Regions from separate parts of the Homo sapiens genome. Here all the other regions are linked to region 3. Evidence: fine-mapped expression QTL. A gene starts in region 3. Each other region holds a variant in brackets. All regions are shown on one strand. Distances are from middle to middle.

Region 1 (8,186 bases), 40 kb after region 3:
CCAGCTACTTGGGAGGCGGAGGCAGAAGAATCACTTGAACCTCAGAGACGGAGGTTGCAGTGAGCCAAGATCGCACCATTGCATTCCAGCCTGGGCAACACAGTGAGACTTTGTCAAAAAAAAAAAAAAAAAAAGAAAAAAGAAGAAATCTGATGTTGATACTTGGGACTCTATGAATATCCTATTCCTCAACAACATTTCACTCCATGGTTTTAACATTCTTTCATGAACCGGGCCGGGCACAGTGGCTCACCTGTAATCCCAGCACTTTGGGAGGCCGAGGTGGGTGGATCACTTGAGGTCAGGAGTTCAAGACCAGCCTGGCCAACATGGTGAAGCCCCGTCTCTAATAAAAATACAAAAACTAGCCAGGCATGGTGGCTGGCATCTGTAATCCCAGCTACTCAGGAGGCTGAGGCAGGAGAATCGCTTGAACCCGGGGGGCGGAGGTTTCAGTGAGCCAAGATCGCGCCATTGCACTCCAGCCTGGGCGACAAGAACAAAACTCCGTCTCAAATAAACAAACAAACAAACAAACAAAACATTCTTTCATGAACCTTGCCTTAATCATTACTTTGTAAATTGCAAAATGGTAAATTTCTAATCGGATTATTCCCTCCACATTTATTAGCTGGATGATGTTTTATAATTCATTATTGTCACTATGATATTGTTCCTTTTGATGCTCAAGTTGTTTCAAATTTAGTCAATGGGACCCCCTCAAGCTGTTTCTGTCTTTTCCACATTTCCCTTTCAGTTTTTAAGCACTTCCTTATTTTCTGGCACAAGATGCCCACCTTCATCTCATTCTTCTCCTGGAAAAAGCCATTTCTCCAAGGAGTACAAGGTCCTTTTGGTGGGGAATAGGATTTTAGAAACAAGCTCTGGGAGCTGGGGTTGGGATTGGGATGCATCATCTTTAACTAGAAAATTAACCTCTTAGCAGACTAATCATACACACTTGCTGAGATTAATGCTTTCTGAAGGTTTTTAACGTAAGACATTTTTATTTGATCTTGCCTTGCCCCATAGCAAGACTGCCTTTTATAAACATCCTTTCAATACCATGATGTTCTGAGTTTTCAAAACATTAAAACTGGCCATCTAGGCTAGGAGGATTTTACTCAAATAATGAATTATATACGGATTTAACTTCATGCTCACATGATCAATGTTCTCTTAGTTTAATGTTCTAGATAACTGGTTGGCAGATGGCAAACGGGCAGTGATATGGTTTTGTAATTAAACTATGAAAGATGACACACGAAAAAACAATTAGAGGGAAGATATTTACCAAAGGTTAATTATAGTTTTTTCCTGGTGTATTTAAATTCTGTCATGAGGGGAAAAAGAAGTACTTTAAAACAAGTACTTAACTTTTACTTTCCCTTATTAATCTTGAATTTGGGAATGTTTTTCTTAAGGGCTTTGTTTTAGTTTGGACTCAAGGGCCTAGCAGGCAATTATTGCCACTAGGGAAAATGAAACCCAAGTCATGACTACATTGTGTTTGTATAGCGCTTTAGAGTTCCCAGAGCACCTTCCCAGAGTCACTGAGTCCTCACAGCACACCTGTGAGGTGGGTGCGATTACTCCGTCACTATATAGTTGCCAAGCCTGAGTTTCAAAGGGGCAGAACTAGAACAGGAGTCCAGGGCTCTCTCCTTCGTGGAGAGACACAGAATGAGACTCTGTCAGATCCAAGTGTCAACCTTGGGAGTTTCTAGGGATAGTCTACTGTCCTTTCCACCCATAACCCATTTATTCATCTGTTGGATGAATAAATGCTATGTTCTCACAGGCACATGGGTCGGGGAGACATGATGGATGCAAATGTGTTATCACTTGAACTTTTCTTTTCTTTTTTTTTTTTTTTTGAGATGGAGTTTTTGCTCTTGTTGCCGAGGCTGGAGTGCAATGGCATGATCTCGGCTCACTGCAACCTTCGCCTCCTGCGTTCAAGCGATTCTCCTGCCTCAGCCTCCAGAGTAGCTGGGATTACAAGCATGCGCCTCCACGCCTGGCTAATCTTGTTTTTTTGTTTTTTTTTTTTTTTTTAGTAGAGACGGTGTTTCTCCATGTTGGTCAGGCTAGTCTCAAACTCCCAACTTCAGGTGATCTGCCCGCCTCAGCCTCCCAAAGTGCTAGGATTACAGGCATGAGCCACCGCGCCCGGCCTGGATTTTTTAAATACAAGTTAGAAATTTGCATTCAGCAAAAGCAAGGGGTCATTGCCTACCCCACCGCACCAGCCTTTTTAAGGAATTGTGCCTGGGGTCAACCTCCTCTTCTCAGTGAAATCTCTACAACAGGAATTTCAACTTTGTCTTCAATTTATGGCAGGGTTTAGAATCTCTTTTGTAATTGCTTTTAATTGAGTGTACCAAGCCAATTTCCTGATGCATTTGAACAGAATCACTTCAAACCCCACCATATATAACCTAGGGTTTAAAGTTAAATGAACTGGAAAATGGCTTCCCAATGTTTTCTCAAACAACTTGTTTTCCAAGCCAGGACCTGGGTGTGGCTCCTTCTCTGTTTTCTGGTCTCCTTGGGAGATTTCAAGGGCTGGAATAGGCCTGGCGTGGTGGCCTGTAATCCCAGCACTTTGGGAGGCAGAGGTAGGCAGATCACTTGAGCCTCCATCTGCCAGCGCATGCTTGACCTAAATGAGCTTGTTTTTCACAGCCCGAGTCTGTGGCTTCGTCCCCACAGTTCAGCGATCCTCATCTGTACGTGTGGAACGCCACTGGCAACAGACTGTTGCACCGAGTGGAAGGGGTGAGGCTGAAAACACGACCCGCTCAATGCACAGATTTTGTAAACATCAAAAAACAACTTGAGATGTTGGCAAGAATGAAAGTCACCCACTACCGGTTTGCTCTGGATTGGGCCTCGGTCCTTCCCACTGGCAACCTGTCCGCGGTGAACCGACAGGCCCTGAGGTACTACAGGTGCGTGGTCAGTGAGGGGCTGAAGCTTGGCATCTCCGCGATGGTCACCCTGTATTATCCGACCCACGCCCACCTAGGCCTCCCCGAGCCTCTGTTGCATGCCGACGGGTGGCTGAACCCATCGACGGCCGAGGCCTTCCAGGCCTACGCTGGGCTGTGCTTCCAGGAGCTGGGGGACCTGGTGAAGCTCTGGATCACCATCAACGAGCCTAACCGGCTAAGTGACATCTACAACCGCTCTGGCAACGACACCTACGGGGCGGCGCACAACCTGCTGGTGGCCCACGCCCTGGCCTGGCGCCTCTACGACCGGCAGTTCAGGCCCTCACAGCGCGGGGCCGTGTCGCTGTCGCTGCACGCGGACTGGG[C/T]GGAACCCGCCAACCCCTATGCTGACTCGCACTGGAGGGCGGCCGAGCGCTTCCTGCAGTTCGAGATCGCCTGGTTCGCCGAGCCGCTCTTCAAGACCGGGGACTACCCCGCGGCCATGAGGGAATACATTGCCTCCAAGCACCGACGGGGGCTTTCCAGCTCGGCCCTGCCGCGCCTCACCGAGGCCGAAAGGAGGCTGCTCAAGGGCACGGTCGACTTCTGCGCGCTCAACCACTTCACCACTAGGTTCGTGATGCACGAGCAGCTGGCCGGCAGCCGCTACGACTCGGACAGGGACATCCAGTTTCTGCAGGACATCACCCGCCTGAGCTCCCCCACGCGCCTGGCTGTGATTCCCTGGGGGGTGCGCAAGCTGCTGCGGTGGGTCCGGAGGAACTACGGCGACATGGACATTTACATCACCGCCAGTGGCATCGACGACCAGGCTCTGGAGGATGACCGGCTCCGGAAGTACTACCTAGGGAAGTACCTTCAGGAGGTGCTGAAAGGTAAGGGCGGGGCCCCTTCAGACACAGGGCAGAGCGAGATTCCTGTTACCTGACAAGAACAAAGAATGGGAGCAGCAGGCTGGTGCCTGACAGCATCCAATTTGTGGCACCCAAGTCCTGTCAATTGAATTTTGTCCTGAAAACTGGCCTATGGGATTTTTGAAAAAATTTTAAAATCATAAAAGTAACACACACCAATTATAGAAAACTGGGCACGTGGAGAAGTTTTTAAAAAATCACCTGAAATCTCACTCCCCAGGATAAACAGTCACTATTTTGGGTTACTTATTTTCACCATGCTTGCTAGGCTTTAAAAAAATGGTTGTGGGTAAACAGGTGTATAAATTTATGGGATGCATGAAATGTTTCGATACAAGCATGCAATGTGAAATAACCACATCATGGTAGCTTAAGCGAGCGACAGTGAGTGAGTGGGTAAAACCAACTGTGATTCCTGGGCTGCACCAAGAGCACATCTGAGGTTCACAATCAGGCCAAATAGGCAACGTTTTTCTGCTTGTGACCCTTTAAACAAAAGTGACAACCTTCATTGCTCTGCTCCTTAAATTTGCTTTTTCCTCCAAGAGTTTTTGGATTATTTATGGATCAAGTTTCACTACAAATTTTTCAGACTTAAATTATACATATTTTCACCTTCTCCTTTACATAGATCATAAAAGAATAAATGTCAAAAAAAACCCTCTAATAAAAATCACTACCTTTATTATGGGCATAATTTTAGCTTGTTTCAATGAAAACTAAATTCTTCCTCAAAGATACTTCATAGTCCATTTGTGATTAATGTTAATTTCTTATCTTTTTCAGCATACCTGATTGATAAAGTCAGAATCAAAGGCTATTATGCATTCAAACTGGCTGAAGAGAAATCTAAACCCAGATTTGGATTCTTCACATCTGATTTTAAAGCTAAATCCTCAATACAATTTTACAACAAAGTGATCAGCAGCAGGGGCTTCCCTTTTGAGAACAGTAGTTCTAGATGCAGTCAGACCCAAGAAAATACAGAGTGCACTGTCTGCTTATTCCTTGTGCAGAAGAAACCACTGATATTCCTGGGTTGTTGCTTCTTCTCCACCCTGGTTCTACTCTTATCAATTGCCATTTTTCAAAGGCAGAAGAGAAGAAAGTTTTGGAAAGCAAAAAACTTACAACACATACCATTAAAGAAAGGCAAGAGAGTTGTTAGCTAAACTGATCTGTCTGCATGATAGACAGTTTAAAAATTCATCCCAGTTCCATATGCTGGTAACTTACAGGAGATATACCTGTATTATAGAAAGACAATCTGAGATACAGCTGTAACCAAGGTGATGACAATTGTCTCTGCTGTGTGGTTCAAAGAACATTCCCTTAGGTGTTGACATCAGTGAACTCAGTTCTTGGATGTAAACATAAAGGCTTCATCCTGACAGTAAGCTATGAGGATTACATGCTACATTGCTTCTTAAAGTTTCATCAACTGTATTCCATCATTCTGCTTTAGCTTTCATCTCTACCAATAGCTACTTGTGGTACAATAAATTATTTTTAAGAAGTAAAACTCTGGGGCTGGACGCTGTGGCTCACACCTGTAATCTCAGCACTTTGGGAGGCCGAGGCGGGGAGATCACCTGAGGTGAGGAGTTCGAGACCAGCCTGGCCAACATGGTGAAACCATGTCTCTACTAAAAATACAAAAAATTAGCCAGGCGTGGTGACAGTGGCACCTGTAATCCCAGCTACTTGGGAGGCTGAGGCAGAAGTTTGAACCCAGGAAACAGGTTACAGTAGGCCAAAATTGCGCCACTGCACTCCAGCCTAGGCGACAACAGCAAGACTGTGTCCAAAAAAAAAAAAAAAAGCAAAAGCAAAACTTTGTTTTGTTAGACTCTACAGCAGAGATTTAACACCCTTCTTTAAACTGGGTAGTCAGTGATAGATAATATATATTCTGTCACTTCTAATAAGGTGCCTTCTCCTTTAGGTCAGGGTGGTTCTAAAATGGAAAGAAAACACAATAGGGTAAGTAGTGCTTGTCTAAGCCAGTTACAACACAGACTCTTAAAGAGGATCAAGCCCTTCATTTTTCTAACAACAAAAAATCACCTATAGAATATCTAATTTGTGATCTTTTACTAGATCTGATTTTTTAAAATAATGTAATTTCCGGCCAGGCACGGTGGCACCGCCTGTAATCCCAGCACTTTGGGAGGCCAAGGCAGGTGGATCACCTGAGGTTAGGAGTTCGAGACTAGCCTGGCCAACATGGCAAAACCCCATCTCTACTAAAAATACAAAAGTTAGCCGGGCATGGTGGTGGGCACCTGTAATCCCAGCTACTCAGGAGGCCGAGGCAGGAGAATCGCTTGAACCCGAGAGGCAGAGGTTGCAATGAGCCAAGATCGTGCCATTGCACTCCAGCCTGGGGGACAGGGCAAGACTGTCTCTCAAAATAAAAAAAAATAATAAAAATAAAAATAAAAGTAATTTCCAAAACCTCATCTCATGGAAAGATCACAGGATGAAGGAAAGCTAGACTCAACTCTGTGAATAGAAGTTGCTATACTGTAAGTAAAGCAACAATTCAGAATACTGAATGAGTTTAAATTGTTTTATATAGCACCCTTTTGGGCTAGGGTTAATTACTAGATCTGACTTGGATAATTTGACACTTTGGGAAATGAACTCTGTTCTTGAGACTTGTTCAGTGTATTTTAAACATCTGAGGAAGAAAACTTAAATATGCACCTATTTATACCTATTCTTTCTTTAGGTCAACATTTAACACCCACTGCATACATTAATTTGTCCTTGTCTGCTCACTCCAGCAATTTAGACCTTAACAGTCACAAGAGACGTTCTTCTGTTACAAAGCCTTAGTAAATTAAGGCAGTTTTGATTATATTCTAGGTCCACCTATGTCTGAAGCTAAATTCAGTATCTAACTGCTAATGAACAAGTTTCCAAAATACTGTAAAAATACAATTAGTCAATTTGAGTAAATGCAAATATGATGAGAAATCAATTTGCTATTTGGCCTGGCAAATGGGAACAGTAAAATTCTGCTTTACTCTTCTCTAGTCTCCTTGCCCCAGCTGCACCCACTACCCCAAAGTTGGCAGTTTTGAGGTATGATTTTCAAGGAATTTTTTTAGTATTAACATCTCCCTCTGAGAACTATGTACCTAAGGTCACGCATACAACTAGTCAATTCTGTTTTTATTACTCTAACTATGTAGAAACAGTAAGTCACTTAAAACAATCACTTGGCTGGGTTTTTTCCCCTTTGTGCCACATTGATTCACCCTGACCCAAGAACTCCAGGGAAAATTCTTTAATGTCAACTGGGCAACTCATTAACCTCTCTTTAACATCAAGGGCTTGGGAAAAAAAAAAAAAAGGTTAGCCACAGGAATAACAAAAACCTGGAATTTATCTTTCAGGTTTTGCTTTCTCTTTCTCACTTTGTTTAAAGTATCTCGTACTCACAGTTCACAAATTAACCTTCACTGTCTCTTTCACATTAAGAGCTTATGCTTAAAGCATGCCCCCCTTTTCTAACTTGCTGGTTTACCATAAACTCCCCTAAGTAATAAAATTCCTAACCCAGTACTGAGAGTCCTCCTTCTCTGCCACTTGGGCATTATTTTACTAGTTTTTAAGCCATCATCGCACAAGAATCCAAAAACCCTTAAATTTTTTAACCACTGGCAAATATGTACAGCAAATTAGGTTAAGCATTTAATCTGGCTCATGCTCTATCATACTAAATATTCAGGTTTATCATAAACTCCTTAAAAACCATCAAAGGTCAACCAGAAACTGATAACTCTTGAAAGGAGCAAACAGGTAAGATCTTTGGAGTTTAAGCTTTTCTGAGATGTGTTGTGAAAAATCTAACGTGTTTATCGTATATTCAATGTAACAACCTGGAGAATCACAACTATATTTAAAGAGCCTCTGGAAAATGAGGCCAGTACAGTGTGACTACATGTTTAATTTTCAATGTAATTTATTCCAAATAAACTGGTTCATGCTGACCACTTGTATTCAACTAACAACCTGGTCAATTTTAAGAACTGTTGAATGTGAATGGGTTTGGCATTGTAAATGGGCTCTGCCCCAAGACTGCCTCCCCTGAATCCCTTTCTGCCTAGTTGTGCACCAACTTGGTATGTTACTTCTGGGTATATTTTCTCAAAAAATGTGGCTCAGGTGTGGTGGCTCACACCTGTAACCCCAGCACTTCGGGAGGCCAAGGTGGGCGGATTGCTTGATTCCAGGAGTTTGAGACCAGCTTGGGCAACGTGGCAAAACCCTCTCTACAAAAAACTAGCCAGGCATGGTGGCACGT
Region 2 (8,186 bases), 63 kb after region 3:
CATAGGGAGATGCTGTCTCTACAAAAAATAAATTAAAAAAAAAAAATAGCTGGATGTGGTAGCATGTGCCCATAGTCCTACCTGCTTGGGAGGCTGAGGCAGAAGGATTGCGTGAGCCCAGGAGTTTAAAGTTACAGTGAGCTATGATGCACTGGGCAACAGAGCAAGACCCTGTTTTTATTTAAAAAAAAAAAATTATAGGATATGTTCTTTGAATATCTCTTATATTCATGATAAGGGTGTACATGTGGTCTTTTCTACATCTGTTCTTTCAGGGAACAACTCCAGACACTTTGCCAGTGGGTTTGTGAAAAAATGTGTCAGCTGTTTCAGTCGTTTTTGCTGGTGTCAAAGGGAACAGCTCTGTGACCCAGTTCACATTATAATACTTGGATGAATAGATATAGCCACAATATAAATAGGAAGATTAATGTTTAGCTCGTACTTCGTTTAACAAAGCTCATGACTCAGCAACCCAGAAAATAGTTTTTAAAACCCGTAGCACTTGTGAAATATTTGCCTAGAGGAAGGGAGGAGAGCATGATTTGATGACTTTTTAAAGAAATCAAAATTAAAGCAATCAAATAATACTCACATTTATATAAGAAATACTTCAATTTACTTTCCAATGAGTAAAGTTTTATATTTAATGTTTTAATATTTCATATTTTAGTTTCTTGCAATTATTTACTTTTTCTAAAACCTACTTAAATTAGGTTTAAAAGTCTACTATATATAATTTGAAATTTTATTCAGTTTGCCTACAGGTGTGTTTTAACCACTGTGTACATAGTATTTAACGGTCTGCTTTTTTTTTTTTAATAATGGTTCATGTATGAACATCTGTATGTTCATACTTTTCTTGACAAAGTTCTAAAGGTTACTGTGTTGAAGCATACTGAACGATTACTGATAATTTCTATTTTGAGGAACAGGTATGTCAGTTCTTTCTCTCTGTTTGATAATTCTCTCTTTTCCCCTTAGGAATCCAAAAATCCTTGTGGAGTGTCTTACTCCTGATTTTCGAGGTGATCTCAAAGCAATAGAAAAAGTTGCTCTGTCAGGATTAGATGTGTATGCACATAATGTAGAAACAGTCCCGGAATTACAGAGGTGAATACGTGTACAAAGTAATGTTGGGAAGTTAGGCGGGTCAAAATATGCCATATATTCTTGCCTTTTCCAGGGCTGAACTTTGCCATTGACTTTTACAAAGTAAACTCTATTCTTTTTTGTTTTTTAGGCAAACTCAATCTATGTCTCTTACATAAAAATCAGAAAATATCACCAACAAAATCAGCATAAATATCACCCATAATAGTATTTCCACCCAGCAATATCAGTTACTAACACCTTAGTGTTTATATTATAAACACTATATTTATACTACATATTTGTATTTTTATATTTATAATATACTTAATTTTTATATTACAAACATTAAGATGTTAGTAACTCATATTACTAAGTTACTGTGTGTGTTTTAATACCCACAAATAATTAACATCTTTTTTCTTTTGTTTTAAAATAATATCATACTGCAAATTTCAATAAGTTGTTTGTTTCCCCCTCCCCACAAATAAAGTTTTCAAAGGAGGGAAAAAATTACACTAGAGCAATTGCTTTGGTTGTAATTCTAAAGAAAAGACTTCAAAAATATATTTGGCTGGATGCTGTGGCTCACGCCTGTAATCTCAGCACTTTGGGAGGCAGAGGCAGGCAGATTACCTGAGGTTGGGAGTTCGAGACCAGCCTGACCAACATGGAGAAACCCCGTCTCTACTAAAAATACAAGATAGCCAGGCGTGGTGGCACATGCCTGTAATCCCAGCTACTCGGTAGGCTGAAGCAGGAGAAGAATCACTTGAACTCGGGAGGCGGAGGTTGCAGTGAGGTGAGATTGCGCCATTGCACTCCAGCTTGGGCAAAAAGAGCGAAACTCCATCTAGAAAGAGAAAGGAAAAAAAAAATATATATATATATATATATTTTTTTATATTATATATATTCATATATATTTATATATATATATTCAGCACTAATATGTGTAATAAATGATGCAGAAGAAAAACTCGTGGCTCACGCCTATAATCCTAGCACTTTGGGAGGCCGAGGCGGGCGGATTACCTGAGGTTGGGAGTTCAAGACCAGTCTGGCCAACATGATGAAACCCCATCTCTACTAAATATACAAAAAATTTTAGCTAGGTGCAGACCTGTAATTCCAGCTACTCTGGAGGCTGAGGCAGGAGAATTGCTTGAACCCGGGAGGCGAAGGTTGCGGTGAGCCGAGATAGTGCCATGGTACTCCATCCTGGGCGACAGCAAAACTTTGTCTCAAAAAAAAAAAAAAAGAAAAAAACTCATATCATTCAGATGTACTTTTTAAAAAAAGTAGACACTATGCTTTCTTATTCCTAATAATTTCAGTAATTAAGACTAATCATTGGCAAGTAACACTGATGTAAGAAAAAAAGTAAGGATTGTTATCCACATCCATTCAAATTTTAGAAAAATGAACATTTTAAGCTTCGGGCAAGAGTAATATCATTTTTTTCTTTAATTTTAGCATTTAGCAGTGATTTTATTAGCTTCTACATATGATCTGTGTCATAGAGCCTGAAAGAAGTTACAGTAAACAATAACCACCATTTTCACTAAATCATAAACAGTAGAGACCATAACTTAATTTCAGTGGAGAAATTCTGTTAAAAAGTGATTTCTATAATGTCAGTTTCAGTTACTTTTAAGTTCATAAATTTGTTTCTTCTCTTTCCTGTTAACTAGTCTCCAATGAAAAACAATTACAGAAAATAAAGCTGCATTAGAATTGAAATGAAATCCAGTTTAACATCAGAAGCTTTCTGGCCTTTTGGCTTAAAGGATAAGTCATTTAAGCCATGGTGGTTTGGCCATTGTTGAAGTCTAGGACACAGCCTGTTCCAACCTCATCATGATACCACCACCAGTGGGTGCCAGTTTCCCTGGTTTCACTTAAAAACATGATCCTTTCCAGTGAAAATTCCAGAATCATGCATTTCTTTACCTAATATGTGGCAGTGTTGTATACTTACCAGCAGAGGGCAGCTTAGTCTTCAGAAAAGAAATGAACTTGAAAGTTTCAACCCTCTGACATGTGGGTTCAGCTTATTTTTTTCTTTGTTCAGTATGGAGACTCTCTTACTTCTGCTTTTTTTCCTTTCTCTTCTAATTTTTCGCTTCAGAATTCTGGTTTCTCAATGCATAAACTGAAGTAATTTCTTCCATTCTACTTTTCTCTGCCCCAGGCTTGAGATAGAACTAGGGAGCCCAGTGAGGCCTTTTCTTTCCTAAATTAACAGGCATCTGTGCATAAATGCTACCTTTGAACTATGTGATTTAAGATAATGTGCAGAATGTACTTCTCTGGTCTTTCAGGTTGCTTGCATAACTATGTACTTGGTTGAACTTGTAATTCTTGCTGACAACAGTCCTGCTGTTTTCCAGTAAGGTTCGTGATCCTCGGGCCAATTTTGATCAGTCCCTACGTGTACTGAAACATGCCAAGAAGGTTCAGCCTGATGTTATTTCTAAAACATCTATAATGTTGGGTTTAGGCGAGAATGATGAGCAAGTATATGCAACAATGAAAGGTAAAGAAATTGAAAAATGAAAAATCTTTCCCATGTAATTTGAGTAATAGCAGGAACCCACTCACTTTGAAGGCCCTTCTAAGAACAAAGAAAAGTATATGGTTATAGATGGCAGCATGAAAAGGAAACCAACTTGCACATGCACCCTCAAATCTAAAATACAAGTTAAAAAAAAAAAAGCAAAGGAAATAAATTTTCTTGGAATTTCATGGAGTGATATGCATGACGCTCAGGATACAAAATTTATATCCCATTTTATTCCCCATCCTTTGCATCCACTGAAAGCATGATTTCATCCACTTTTCTCATTCTATCATTGGACACTTTTGGAGAGCCAGCCTGGTACCAGGCACTGACAGTTCATAGATCAATGAGACTAATCCAGGCCTCTGAGAAAGAGCTTACTTGTAGCATTGTCACATAACATGGTGTGCTTTGGACTTTGCTGAACTTTAGTCCCGTAAGTCCATTTGCTTTGTGATTCTTGGACTTTTTAAACTTTGGAATTTCAAAGTTTTAATTTTAGCTGAGGACCCTTGGACTACTTGTAGTTATTTAGTGGTTCAAAGAGTAATAAGTTCATATAATAATCAAGACCTGCTGTTTACCACATTGCACACAGTTTATTAGAAAGATTCTGATATGTCATAGTTTAAATCACAGCCCCCATAGCATATCTTGTGCATTGAGTAAAAGCCTAATGCAACATATTTGCTCTATAATATAGGTGCATTGAGGTTTTTGCATATACCATTTCCCATACCTTTTCTACCAGACTCCTACTCTAAAATACCCTCCACTACTATTTTAGCATTGATTCCATAGTATTAGAAGTATTTATCCTTGTATGTATCAGCCCTACATGACTGTCTTAATTATTATTGTTTTCAGTCCTTACCACAGTCCCTGGCACATAATACTTTTGAATGAATAGATGTTGTCTTATTCCCCAACATGAAGATTATGGACTGTCATAAAGTTCACACCGTTTTTAAATATTCCTTAGGAAAATTATGCTTAGATCTACAATTAAAGTATTTGCTAATGTAATTTGTGCTTTTCTTCCTACAGCACTTCGTGAGGCAGATGTAGACTGCTTGACTTTAGGACAATATATGCAGCCAACAAGGCGTCACCTTAAGGTACATGTATCTTGATTTGCTTTTTTTTTTTTTTTTTATTTTTAAAGATGGAGTTTTGCTCTTGTCGCCTGAGCTGGAGTGTAGTGGCACAATCTCGGCTCACTGTAATCTCTGCTTCCTGGGTTCAGGTGATTCTCCTGCCTCACCCTCCTGAGCAGCTGGGACTACAGGCGGGTGCCACTACATCCGGCTAAAATATACATATATATAATTTTTTTTTTTTTTTTTTTTTTTTTTTGAGACGGAGTCTCGCTCTGTCGCCCAGGCTGGAGTGCAGTGGGGCAATCTCGGCTCACTGCAACCTCCACCTCCCA[G/A]GTTCAAATGATTTTCATGCTTCAGCCTCCTGAGTAGCTGGGATTACAGGCACACACTACCACACCCGACTAATTTTTTTGTAGTTTTAGAGACAAGATTTTGCCATGTTGCCCAGGCTGGTCTCGAACTCCTGAGAGCTCAGGCAATCCACCCGCTTCGGCCTCCCAAAGCGCTAGGATTACAGGCGTGAGCCACCGCACCCAGCCAATTTTTTATATTTTTAATAGAGATGGGGTTTCATCATTTTGGCCAGGCTAGTCTTGAACTCCTGACCTTAGGTGATCCACCCGCCTCAGCCTTCCAAAGTGCTGGGATTACAGGTGTGAGCCACTGCGCCCAGCCCATGTATAGCTTTTGACTCCCAAAAAAACATAACTACTAATAGCCTTCTGTTGACCGGAAGCCATACCAATAACAGTCAATTAACACACATTTTGTATGTTACATGTACTTATATATATACGTATGTGTGTGTGTATATCTGTATATACACACACACATATACACACACACACACACACACACATATATACACATCTTATTCTTATGATAAAGTCAGCTAGAGAAAAAATTTTTTGAAGAAAATCATAAGGAAAAGAAAATATATTTACTAGTCATTAAGTGGAAGTGGACCATCATAAAGGTCTTCATCCTCATCATCTTCATGTAGATGAGGACAAGGGAGAAGAGGAGGAGTTAGTCATGCTGTCTCAGGGGTGGCAGAAATGGAAGAAAATCCTTGTATAAGTGGGCCTGTGCAGTTACCATGTTGTTCAAGGCTCAGCTGTATTCTTATAAGTCCCAGTTTTCATTTTATTATCTACATAAATCAGCTACGTTTGCACATATTTGCTGCCTCCCCCATTCTCTTCACAAATTTCACAACTCAAGTGAACCTAGAGAAAAAGAATTTAAAAGTTGGGAAATGGCACTCATTTACACTTGGTTATTGTGTAACTTGTTTTTGTTATGTTAGAGCCAGAGGCGAAGAAAGAATGGGAAACCATTCTTTCTATTTCTATCATGGACATTTATCCATTCATTCAAGAAGCTTGTGTTGAGCAGTGACCATGTGCCAGTCACAGTGCTAAGCAGAAGATACAAGTTGAGTAAGACAGTCTTGTCCTCAAGAATCAGATAAGCATGAGTAATTCTTGAATTTAGCTGTTAACGAAGGAAAAATATAGATAAATAATATCTGTAGATAATCTCTTCTTTCTCTGTCCTTTGGAATAGCCATTGTAGCACAAAATTGATATGCTTCCCTGTCTCTGTAATTCCCTGTATTTACATCCCAATAGAGTGGCCAAAAAGTAACCAGTAAACACGTAGTCAGGGAGGAGGGAGAGGACAAAAGCCTGGGGGTGGGGGCAAGATAAATTACGCAGTGAAGAGCATTCTGCATACATAGGTATAGACTTTCTGCAGAATCAAAGTGGAATTCTAAAATCTGATCAGAAGTAATTATTTAAATCTAGGTTGAAGAATATATTACTCCTGAAAAATTCAAATACTGGGAAAAAGTAGGAAATGAACTTGGATTTCATTATACTGCAAGTGGCCCTTTGGTGCGTTCTTCATATAAAGCAGGTAAGTTAGATTGTGGGGCATGGTTTCATTTAGGCCGTTAACTTTCCACATTAAGTTCTACCACCAGTCACTAAAACTCTTGACAAATTCTAATACCTTTGGTGGTCTTGGTAGAGGGCGTAGTTTTTCTTCTGGAACATCCTTAGGAGCTTTGCTCCATGGGGATCATATTAAGAAAAGTTTCTCTTAATCTTTTGTTTCTTAAACAAATTCAGCCCCCTGCTTTGTAACTCAGCTACTATAGTAAAAGCAGAAACAATTAGTTTATTAATTTTTTCTATGTGTAGATTTCAGTAGTAGGTTATTCAGAAATGACAGAGCATGTCAAGCATCTAATAGGGTTTTCTGAGAAATACATATTTATTTGGAAATGATGCCAGCTGCATCTCCAGACTCAGTTTCAATCAGTTTAAGCACTGAAAAGTATCTTATTTGATAGCATTGCTTGCATCATTAAATTTCTTTGTATTTTTCCCCCAGAGGCAACAGAAAAATATCCATAAGATTATTTTTCTCCGTAGGAACGTTTAGTTGTTTTACTAGCTACAATGCAAATTTTTTTTACTTTTGGAATTTCAGCTCTTATTTTAATCAATAGCTTGAATTGATTTATGAAAAGAAAATCATTTTCCAAGGGATAAAAAGTCATGTGATAATGATTGTCGGAGGATCCAAAAGAACATATCTGAAGACCGAATTTAATCTAGAAAGTGTTTATGATGTCCCTGTCAGTTGGACTTAACAATTATAATGATTAAGAATAAATTGGCTGGCCAGGTGGGGTGGCTCACACCTGTAATCCCAGCACTTTGGGAGGCTGAGGCGGGCAAATCACGAGGTCAGGAGATCGAGACCATCCTGGCTAACACGGTGAAACCCTCTCCACTAAAAATACAAAAAAATTAGCCGGGCATGGTGGCGGGCACCTGCAGTCCCAGCTACTCGGGAGGCTGAGGCAGCAGAATGGCATGAACCCAGGAGGCCGAGCTTGCAGTGAGCCGAGATTGTGCCACTGCACTCCAGCCTGGGCAACAGAGCAAGACTCTGTCTCAAAAAAAAAAAAAAAAAAAGAATAAATAGGCCAGGCAAGGTGGCTCATGCCTGTAATCCCAGCACTTTGGAAGGCAGTTGGATTACTTGAGCCTAGGAGTTCAAGGATGCAGTGAGCTATGATCGTGTCACTACAGCTCCAGCCTGGGTGACAGAGCAAGACACTGTGTCTCAAAAATAAAATAAAAAAAAGAAACAGCTAGGCCAGGTGTGGTGGTGTGTGCCTATAGTCCCAACTTCTTGGGAGACCGAGGCAGGAGGATCGCATGGGCCCAGGAGTTCAAATACAGCCTGAGCAACATTGTGAGATCTCATCTCTTTATTTTTTATTTTATTATTATTATTTTTTTTTTAGATGCAGTCTCTCTCCATCGCCCAGGCTGGAGTGCAGTGGCACAATCTTGACTCACTGCAACCTCTGCCTCTCAGGTTCACGGCATTCTCCTGCCTCAGCCTCC
Region 3 (8,186 bases):
CCTGAACTCAAGCGATCCTCCTGCCTCAGCCTCCCAAAGTGCAGGGATTACAGGTGTGGGCCCTCATGCCCAGCCTACTATAGATACTCTCATTCATTCAGTAAATACTTTAGTGACTGCTATATGTCAAGTACCATGCTGGGCCACAGACAATCAACAGGGAACCAATCATGGTCCCTGTTTTGGTTTTTAAAAAAGAGAGAGAGAGAGAGAAACAGAGAGAGAGAGAGAAAACTTACACTCAAACAGAGGATACAGATACATTTATTGTGTGGTTAGCTGATTTATTGTGTGTCATAATAGAGAAAACATGGGCTGCCATGGGAAAACAGAAGATCCATCTAAATCCAATCAGGCTAGGGAGTCATAGGGAGTCAGAAAGGCCTTACTAATGCAGGAACAGAAGACCAAATACCGCAGGTTCTCACTTATAAGTGGGAGCTAAATGATGAGAACACCTGGACACATAGAGGGAAATAACACACTGGGGCCTATCAGAGGGTGGAGGGTCGGAAGAAGGAGAGGATCAGGAAAAAAAAACTAATGAGTACTAGGCTTAATACCTGCCTGCTGAAATAATCCATACAGCAAACACCCATAACACAAGTTTACGTATGTAACAAACTTGCACGTGTCCCTGAACTTAAAAGTTAAAAAAAAAAAAAAAAAAAAAAAGACGGCCGGGCGCTGTGGCTCACGCCTGTAATCCCAGCACTTTGGGAGGCCGAGACGGTCGGATCACGAGGTTAGGAGATCGAGACCATCCTGGCTAACACGGTGAAACCCCGTCTCTACTAAAAATACAAAAAACTAGCCAGGCGTGGTGGCGGGCGCCGGTAGTCCCAGCTACTCAGGAGGCTGAGGCAGGAGAATGGAGTGAACCTGGGAGGCGGAGCTTGCAGTGAGCCGAGATCCCGCCACTGCACTCCAGCCTGGCAGACAGAGTGAGACTCCGTCTCAAAAAAAAAAAAAAAAAAAGATAGACATGAGCTAGATGAAGGGAGAAACATACTCTGTGCAGAGAGCACACATACCAAGGTACAGGGCTACAAGTTAGCAGGCTGTGTACCCCTTAGTCAACTGAGAGAAGTGAAGCTAAAAATGTGGGCAGGAGCCAGAACAAATTGTCTTTTATGCTAAATCCTGGCATCATGTCCTGAATAATCTTTCCCTTTCACACAAAAATAATATTAGCACATAACTTACTATGTGTCAGTCTCTGTTCCAAGTGCCTTACATGTACTGGCTCATTCGTTTCTATATTCCAGAGAAAACCATTTGGTTCAGTGTATTAACTCGTTTAATTCTCACAATAATCCATGAAGTGCATATTATTATTATGCCTTTTCTTAAAGAGGAAACTGAGGGCAAGTTACACAGCTATATTTAAACTCAGGCAGTCTGCCTCTAGAGGCTCAATCTCTCTTTTTTTTTTTTTTTTTTTTTTTTTTTTTTTTTTTTTTTTAGACAGAGTTTTGCTCTTGTTGCCTAGGCTGGAGTGCAATGGCGCGATCTCGGCTCACTGCAACCTCCACCTCCCGGGATCAGGCAATTCTTCTGCCTCAGCCTCCCGAGTAACTGGGATTACAGGCATGTGCCACCATGCCCAGCTAATTTTGTATTTTTAGTAGAGATGGGGTTTCACCATGTTGGTCAGGCTGGTCTCGAACTCCTGATCTCAGGTGATCCAGCCGCCTCGGACTCCCAAAGTGCTGGGATTACAGGTGCGAACCACTGTGCCGGGCCTCAATCATCTTTTTTTAGAGGTGAGGATAGTCTCACTATATTGCCCAGGCTGGTCTCAAAACTCCTGGCCTCAAGCAGTCCTCCCCACTTAGCCTCCTAAGTAGCTGGGATTATAGGTGTGAGCCACCTCATCTGGCACAGAGACCAAACTATTAACCACTCTGCTTCTCATTCATATGTGATACTTCAAATATTTAAAACATTTATTTATTTATTTATTTATTATTTTTTGAGACAGAGTCTCATTCTGTCACCCAGGCTGGAGTGCAGTGGTGCAATCATGGCTCACTACAGTCTTGACCTCTTGGGCTCAAAGCAATCCTCCCACCTTGGCCTTCTAAAGTGCTGGGACTACAGGCATGCACAACCACACCCGGTTAGTTTTTAATTTTTTTTGTAGAGATGGGGCCTTATTATGTTCCCCAGGCTGTAAAACATTAAATTTTTTACAGGTTATTTGGAGGCTATCGATTTGGTACAATATTTCTTTCTGTATGTGCATGTATTTCTTTCTGTATGTTTATCTTTATTCCAGAATCATGCTGAAGGTAGTCTATGCCTTTGCTATTTTCTTTTTCAGGTTTTTCTTTCCTTTTTAAAAATAAATATTGCCTATTCTTCAAGGGAACTTTCATAATAATTTTCTCTTTTTTTTTTTTTTTTTATTTTGAGACCGAGTCTTGCTCTGTTGCCCAGGCTGGAGTGCGGTGGTGCGATCTCAGCTCACTACAACCTCCACGTCCCAGGTTCAAGAGATTCTCCTGCCTCAGCCTCCCAGGTAGCTGGGATTACAGGTGCCCACCACCGTGCCCAGCTAATTGTATTTTTAATAGAGACGGGGTTTCAACATGTTGGCTAGGCTGGTCTCAAACTCCTGACCCCAAGTGATCTGCCTGCCTTGGCCTCCCAAAGTGGTGGGATTATAGCCATGAATCACTGTGCCTGGCCTTTCGTAATAATTTTCTTGAACTAAAATTTGGGATTAGGCCAGGCATGGTGGCTCACACCTATAATCCCAAGCACTTTAGGAGGCCGAGGCAGAAGGGCTGTTTGAGCCCAGGAGTTCAGGACCAGCCTGGGGGACATAGCTAGACCCCACCTCTACCAAAAAATCAAAAATCAGCTGGGCATGGTGGCATGTGCCTGTTGTCCCAGCTACTTGGAGGCTGAGGAGGGAGGATTGCTTAAGCCTGGGAAGTTGAGGCTGCGGTGAGCTGTGATGACACCACTGCACTCCAGCCTAGGCTACAAAGCAAGACTCTTATTAAAAATTAATTAATTAATTAAAAAATTAGAGATTAGAGAATTTTAGTTAAGTTAAATAAATAAAATAAAAAATAAAATTAGAGATTAGAGGATTTTAGTTAAGTTAAATGTATTAAATTGAAAAGTATTTCATTTTTCCATCCACAAAGTGCTATATTTTCTCATTCAAGTCTTCTCTCAAATCTACCAATACATTTTTGCAATTTTCCTAAAATAGGTAACATTTATTAAGATTGTTCTTAGATGCGTTATAATTTTGTGGAGAAGTGTAATTTCTTATTGTGTTTTCTAATTCTTTACTATTGGTATGTAGGAATGCTATATACTTGTATATGTTATTTTTCTTGATATATGAGATTATAAAATTACCACACAAAAACTCTAAAAATAGAAAAGCTATATACCTTATTCAATAATGTTCAAAACATTCAGAAAAGATTTGGGTCAATATGAAAGGCTACACGGAAAATAATGTGATTTTAATCCAGTGTTTACATATGTGTTAGTTACACATTCAAACTCTTGTCACCGATGCATTTTCATCTAATTTTTTCCATAATGAGAGAGAAGGAGACGCGTTGGTGACTGCAATAGGGCCACCTCCCTCAAATTACGTTGCTCTCTATGACCCATCCTCAGTCTCCCAGTTCAAGCTAATCATTGACAGAGCTTTACAATCACAAGCTTTTACTGAAGCTTTGATAAGACAGTCCAGCAGTTGGTGGCAAATGAAGCCAGGCTGTGCGGCAGGATCTCCAGGGAATGAATGGATTTTCTTCAGCACTGATGAAATAACCACACGCTATAGGAATACAATGTCCAACGGGGGATTGCAAAGATCTGTCATCCTGTCAGCACTTATTCTGCTACGAGCTGTTACTGGATTCTCTGGAGATGGAAGAGCTATATGGTCTAAAAATCCTAATTTTACTCCGGTAAATGAAAGTCAGCTGTTTCTCTATGACACTTTCCCTAAAAACTTTTTCTGGGGTATTGGGACTGGAGCATTGCAAGTGGAAGGGAGTTGGAAGAAGGATGGAAAAGGACCTTCTATATGGGATCATTTCATCCACACACACCTTAAAAATGTCAGCAGCACGAATGGTTCCAGTGACAGTTATATTTTTCTGGAAAAAGACTTATCAGCCCTGGATTTTATAGGAGTTTCTTTTTATCAATTTTCAATTTCCTGGCCAAGGCTTTTCCCCGATGGAATAGTAACAGTTGCCAACGCAAAAGGTCTGCAGTACTACAGTACTCTTCTGGACGCTCTAGTGCTTAGAAACATTGAACCTATAGTTACTTTATACCACTGGGATTTGCCTTTGGCACTACAAGAAAAATATGGGGGGTGGAAAAATGATACCATAATAGATATCTTCAATGACTATGCCACATACTGTTTCCAGATGTTTGGGGACCGTGTCAAATATTGGATTACAATTCACAACCCATATCTAGTGGCTTGGCATGGGTATGGGACAGGTATGCATGCCCCTGGAGAGAAGGGAAATTTAGCAGCTGTCTACACTGTGGGACACAACTTGATCAAGGTACTGTACAGCTAGCTTCTTCTTATAGCTTCAGAAAACACTAAGAATTTAAGAATTTACCTTCTGCCTCAGTAATTCTCTTCACTGAAATCAAGGCAACTGATTTTAAGCTAATTCAAAAGATCTATCCTCAAATTTTGCATTTAAGTTAGTGTATGTTTTATTTATCTAAGGTATTTTTAATGTATTAATCCAATTAGTTTTTTCAAAAGTTGCACTTTGAGGCTATTTTTAAATCTACCATTATACACTACAGTGTGAATATATGAGCTTACTTTCATTCTGTGGGAAAACAGTGCTTCATAAATTTAATTGTTGGAACCCTTTTCTGACAACATGCAATCATTTCAGAATTATCTTAAGGCACAACCATTTCAAATATGTATTTGTTGTTAAGTATAGCTAACTTAGCTAATAAGTAAATAAAGTAAGTAAATAAGTAAGCCAAATAAATGTTAGCTAACTCATGCATATTAAATACAGAAATTTAAATATACTTCACTTTTGATTTTATTTGTGTTACATAGCAAAAAAGAGAAGATTAATTGTTATGGGAGCTAAACACATTTCTTCCCATAAGAACTGGGAAGAATGTGCTCTACTAAAGCAATTTTCAAGCAATATATTTCAAAAGCTAGAGATAATGTTGAGAAATGTTAAAATTAGTAAAACAATAGTGAAAATACAAGCAAAATAATAGGTAATAATTACTGAGTACTTATTATGTACCACAGACTACATTAAGTATTTTACATGCATCGTTACAGTTGATCCTCTTAACAGCCTTTTGAACTAGTTTTATTATTCTTCCCATTTAAAAGATGAGGAAACTGAAGCTTAATGAGATTAAATAATTTTCCCAAGGTTAAGGAGTAAAATACAGCTGTTGTGGACATGGATTTTTTAAATGACAACATAATTAACACTAACTGTCTTCATTAAGAATGCTTTGAAAAGAAGACTCAGGAATTTGCAAGAGATTTAGCCTCACATTGAGGCTAATATCTAGAATCGAATTTAACTTTTTGAGTCAAATAGTTTACTTAGGAAAAATAAATTATTCTGCACACCTGTTACATTTTAAAAATGAAAAAACTTTATCAATATAATTTTATAATGTGCTACAAAAAGTAATTTAATTATTAATAATCAAAAGCTAAATATACAGAAGTAGAAAAAAAATACAGCAACATAAAATAATTCCATGTCTAAATTTGTACATACAAAAATATCTGCTATCACTTCTTTTCTTTTTGAACTTTTCTGGATTATTACACATGTGCATTGTACTATGGTTTCAGATACATCTGCCCTTGAGGTAAACAGATTGCATTATGATTTCAAGGTCATTTGCATATCTTTGACTAGAGTTGTATATAGAACATATTAATGTGTGGGTATACTGTGATTTGACAAAATAAGACCTTAAAGGGTAGAAATTGTATAGGTATTTAACAGTTATCAAGATTATGCATACAAAAGTTAGAAAAATATTCCTCTCATTTAGTCCTTTTAATTTTCTTTTTTTTTTTTTTTGAGACAAAGTCTCACTCTGTCACCCAGGCTGGAGTGCAATGGCGCAGTCTTGGCTCACTGCAATCTCCACCTCCCAGGTTCAAGCAATTCTCCTGCCTCAGCCTCTTGAGTAACTGGTACTACAGGCACATGCCACCAGCCCAGTTAATTTTTGTGTTTTTAGTAGAGAGGGGTTTCACTATGTTGGCCAGGCTGGTCTCCAACTCCTGACCTCATGATCCACCTGCCTCAGCCTCCCAAAGTGCTGGGATTACAGGTGTGAGCCACTGCGCTCAGCCAGTCCTTTTAATTTTTAAAACAATTCATGCTCATGTACATTTAAAAATATCAGATTGGGCCGGGCACAGTGCCTCATGCCTGTAATCCCAGCACTTTGGGAGGCCAAGGCAGGTGGATCACAAGATCAGGAGTTTGAGACCAGCCTCGCCAACATAGTGAAACCCTCTCTACTGAAAACACAAAAATTAACTGGGCGTCGTGGCACGTGCCTATAGTCCCAGTTACTCGGGAGGCTGAGGCAGGAGAATCCCTTGAACCCGGGAGGCAGAGGTTACAGTGAGCCGAGATCACGCCACTGCACTCCAGCCTGGGCGAGAGTGAAACTCTGTCTCAAAAAAATAATAAATAAAAAATAAAAATATCACATTGTACCAAAGGATCTAAAGTGAAAAAGTTAAATCCCTCTCCCTCTCTTCACCTGACAATCCCAGGCCAAGGACGCTACTGTTAATAGTTTCTTATACATTCTTTTTAAAGTTTTCTATGCAAATACATGCATGAATATGTTTATTTAACCTTTGTATAAAGAAAAATATTCTAAATTGTTGAAAAGTCATTACCTGGAAAAATGTCAACAATTAGAGTTTTCATGAAAATGTATTTTAAGGATTAAAGCCTTAAAATTGGCTGATAAGAATAAACAGGCAAAAAGCTTTAACAGATATTGCTTCCAAACATAGTTGATAAAATGACATATTTTCAGATGTTTTCATTTTCCTCTAATTTGAGATATTCTCTGCCTTTAACACAAAATTAGCACTTTATGATCGTGAGATAAATTTTATTATTTTAAATGGAGGGATATGTTTTTCAACTATTGTGTTTTCCAAATAATGTTTGTATTGCCTTAAAAGTTCTAAATCACTAGACTAAATAAATGGTGTGAGGGGTCCTTGAAATCAGTCAGAAAGTGAAATACACTGCATGACCCAGTGACGTATAGCACTAAAGAAATCTTGCAATGATTTGGTAGCCTGAGGTGAACTTGTTTTTCCCACTTGTCCCCTCGCTGTCTTGACTTTCACGTAGAAAACATTAATTTGATATTTTACGTTGCAATGAAGTATTTCTTCCTTCTCCTGCCCCCTTGTGACCCAGAAGAAGCATTCTTTAGGAATAGTTTTTAGACCGAAAACATTTATTGAGCTACACAAGCCTAATATAAAACTGAATTCTGGGGGGGTATGGACCCCTTCATTCCCCACTTCTCAGATAGAGAAAAGGTTTCATAGTGGCTATTGGGGTCCTTTTCGTTCCAGAATGATCTGGAAAACTCCATCTCGGTTTGAAATGTTCCCATTTGGAGGAAACCTGAATGGTCCAGAGGGTCCCAAGGCTGACTTGCAATTTAGATTCCACTTTATTGCAGATGTAGGGAGTACCTTAATGCGGGTCTAAGACTCAGGTAAAAATTTTCCATAATCACACCTACTAATGGATGAACCAACTCTAAGTTTTTGTTTTTGTTTTGTTTTGTTTTGAGACGGAGTTTTCGTTCTTGTTGCCCAGCCTGGAGTGCAGTGGCACAATCTTGGCTCACTGCAACCTCCGCCTCCCGGGTTCAAGCGGGAGCCTCAGCCTCCCGAGTCGCTGGGATTACAGGCAAGTGCCACCACGCCTGGGTAATTTTTTGTACTTTTAGTAGAGACGGGGTTTCTCCATGTTGGTCAGGCTGGTCTGGAACTCCCGACCCACAGCGCCCGGCCTCAAAACTAAGGTTTTTTTTGTTTTGTTTTGTTTTGTTTTGATTTTTTTTTTTTTTTTTTTTGAGACGGAGTCTTGCTCTGTCGCCCAGGCTGGAGTGCA

The links.
Region 1: its variant is fine-mapped to the expression of KLB in testis (GTEx, PIP above 0.99).
Region 2: its variant is fine-mapped to the expression of KLB in cerebral cortex (GTEx, PIP above 0.99). The same link has a PIP of 0.9 or more in cerebellar hemisphere and cerebellum.

Annotation. Positions count from the first base shown.
Region 1 is chr4:39,443,644-39,451,829 of GRCh38, forward strand. KLB (klotho beta) reads left to right here. Exons shown (of 5, transcript NM_175737.4): 4 at 2,689-3,832; 5 at 4,658-7,890. The coding sequence ends at 5,043. Among named protein-coding and RNA genes, the nearest start is that of RPL9, 11 kb to the right of the region's middle. RefSeq lists an enhancer at 3,486-3,675. The variant C/T (reference allele first, on the strand shown) is at 3,323.
Region 2 is chr4:39,466,534-39,474,719 of GRCh38, forward strand. LIAS (lipoic acid synthetase) reads left to right here. Exons shown (of 11, transcript NM_006859.4): 7 at 985-1,113; 8 at 3,486-3,631; 9 at 4,703-4,773; 10 at 6,567-6,678. Among named protein-coding and RNA genes, the nearest start is that of LIAS, 12 kb to the left of the region's middle. The variant G/A (reference allele first, on the strand shown) is at 5,088.
Region 3 is chr4:39,403,210-39,411,395 of GRCh38, forward strand. KLB (klotho beta) reads left to right here and starts at 3,721. Exons shown (of 5, transcript NM_175737.4): 1 at 3,721-4,565. The coding sequence starts at 3,741.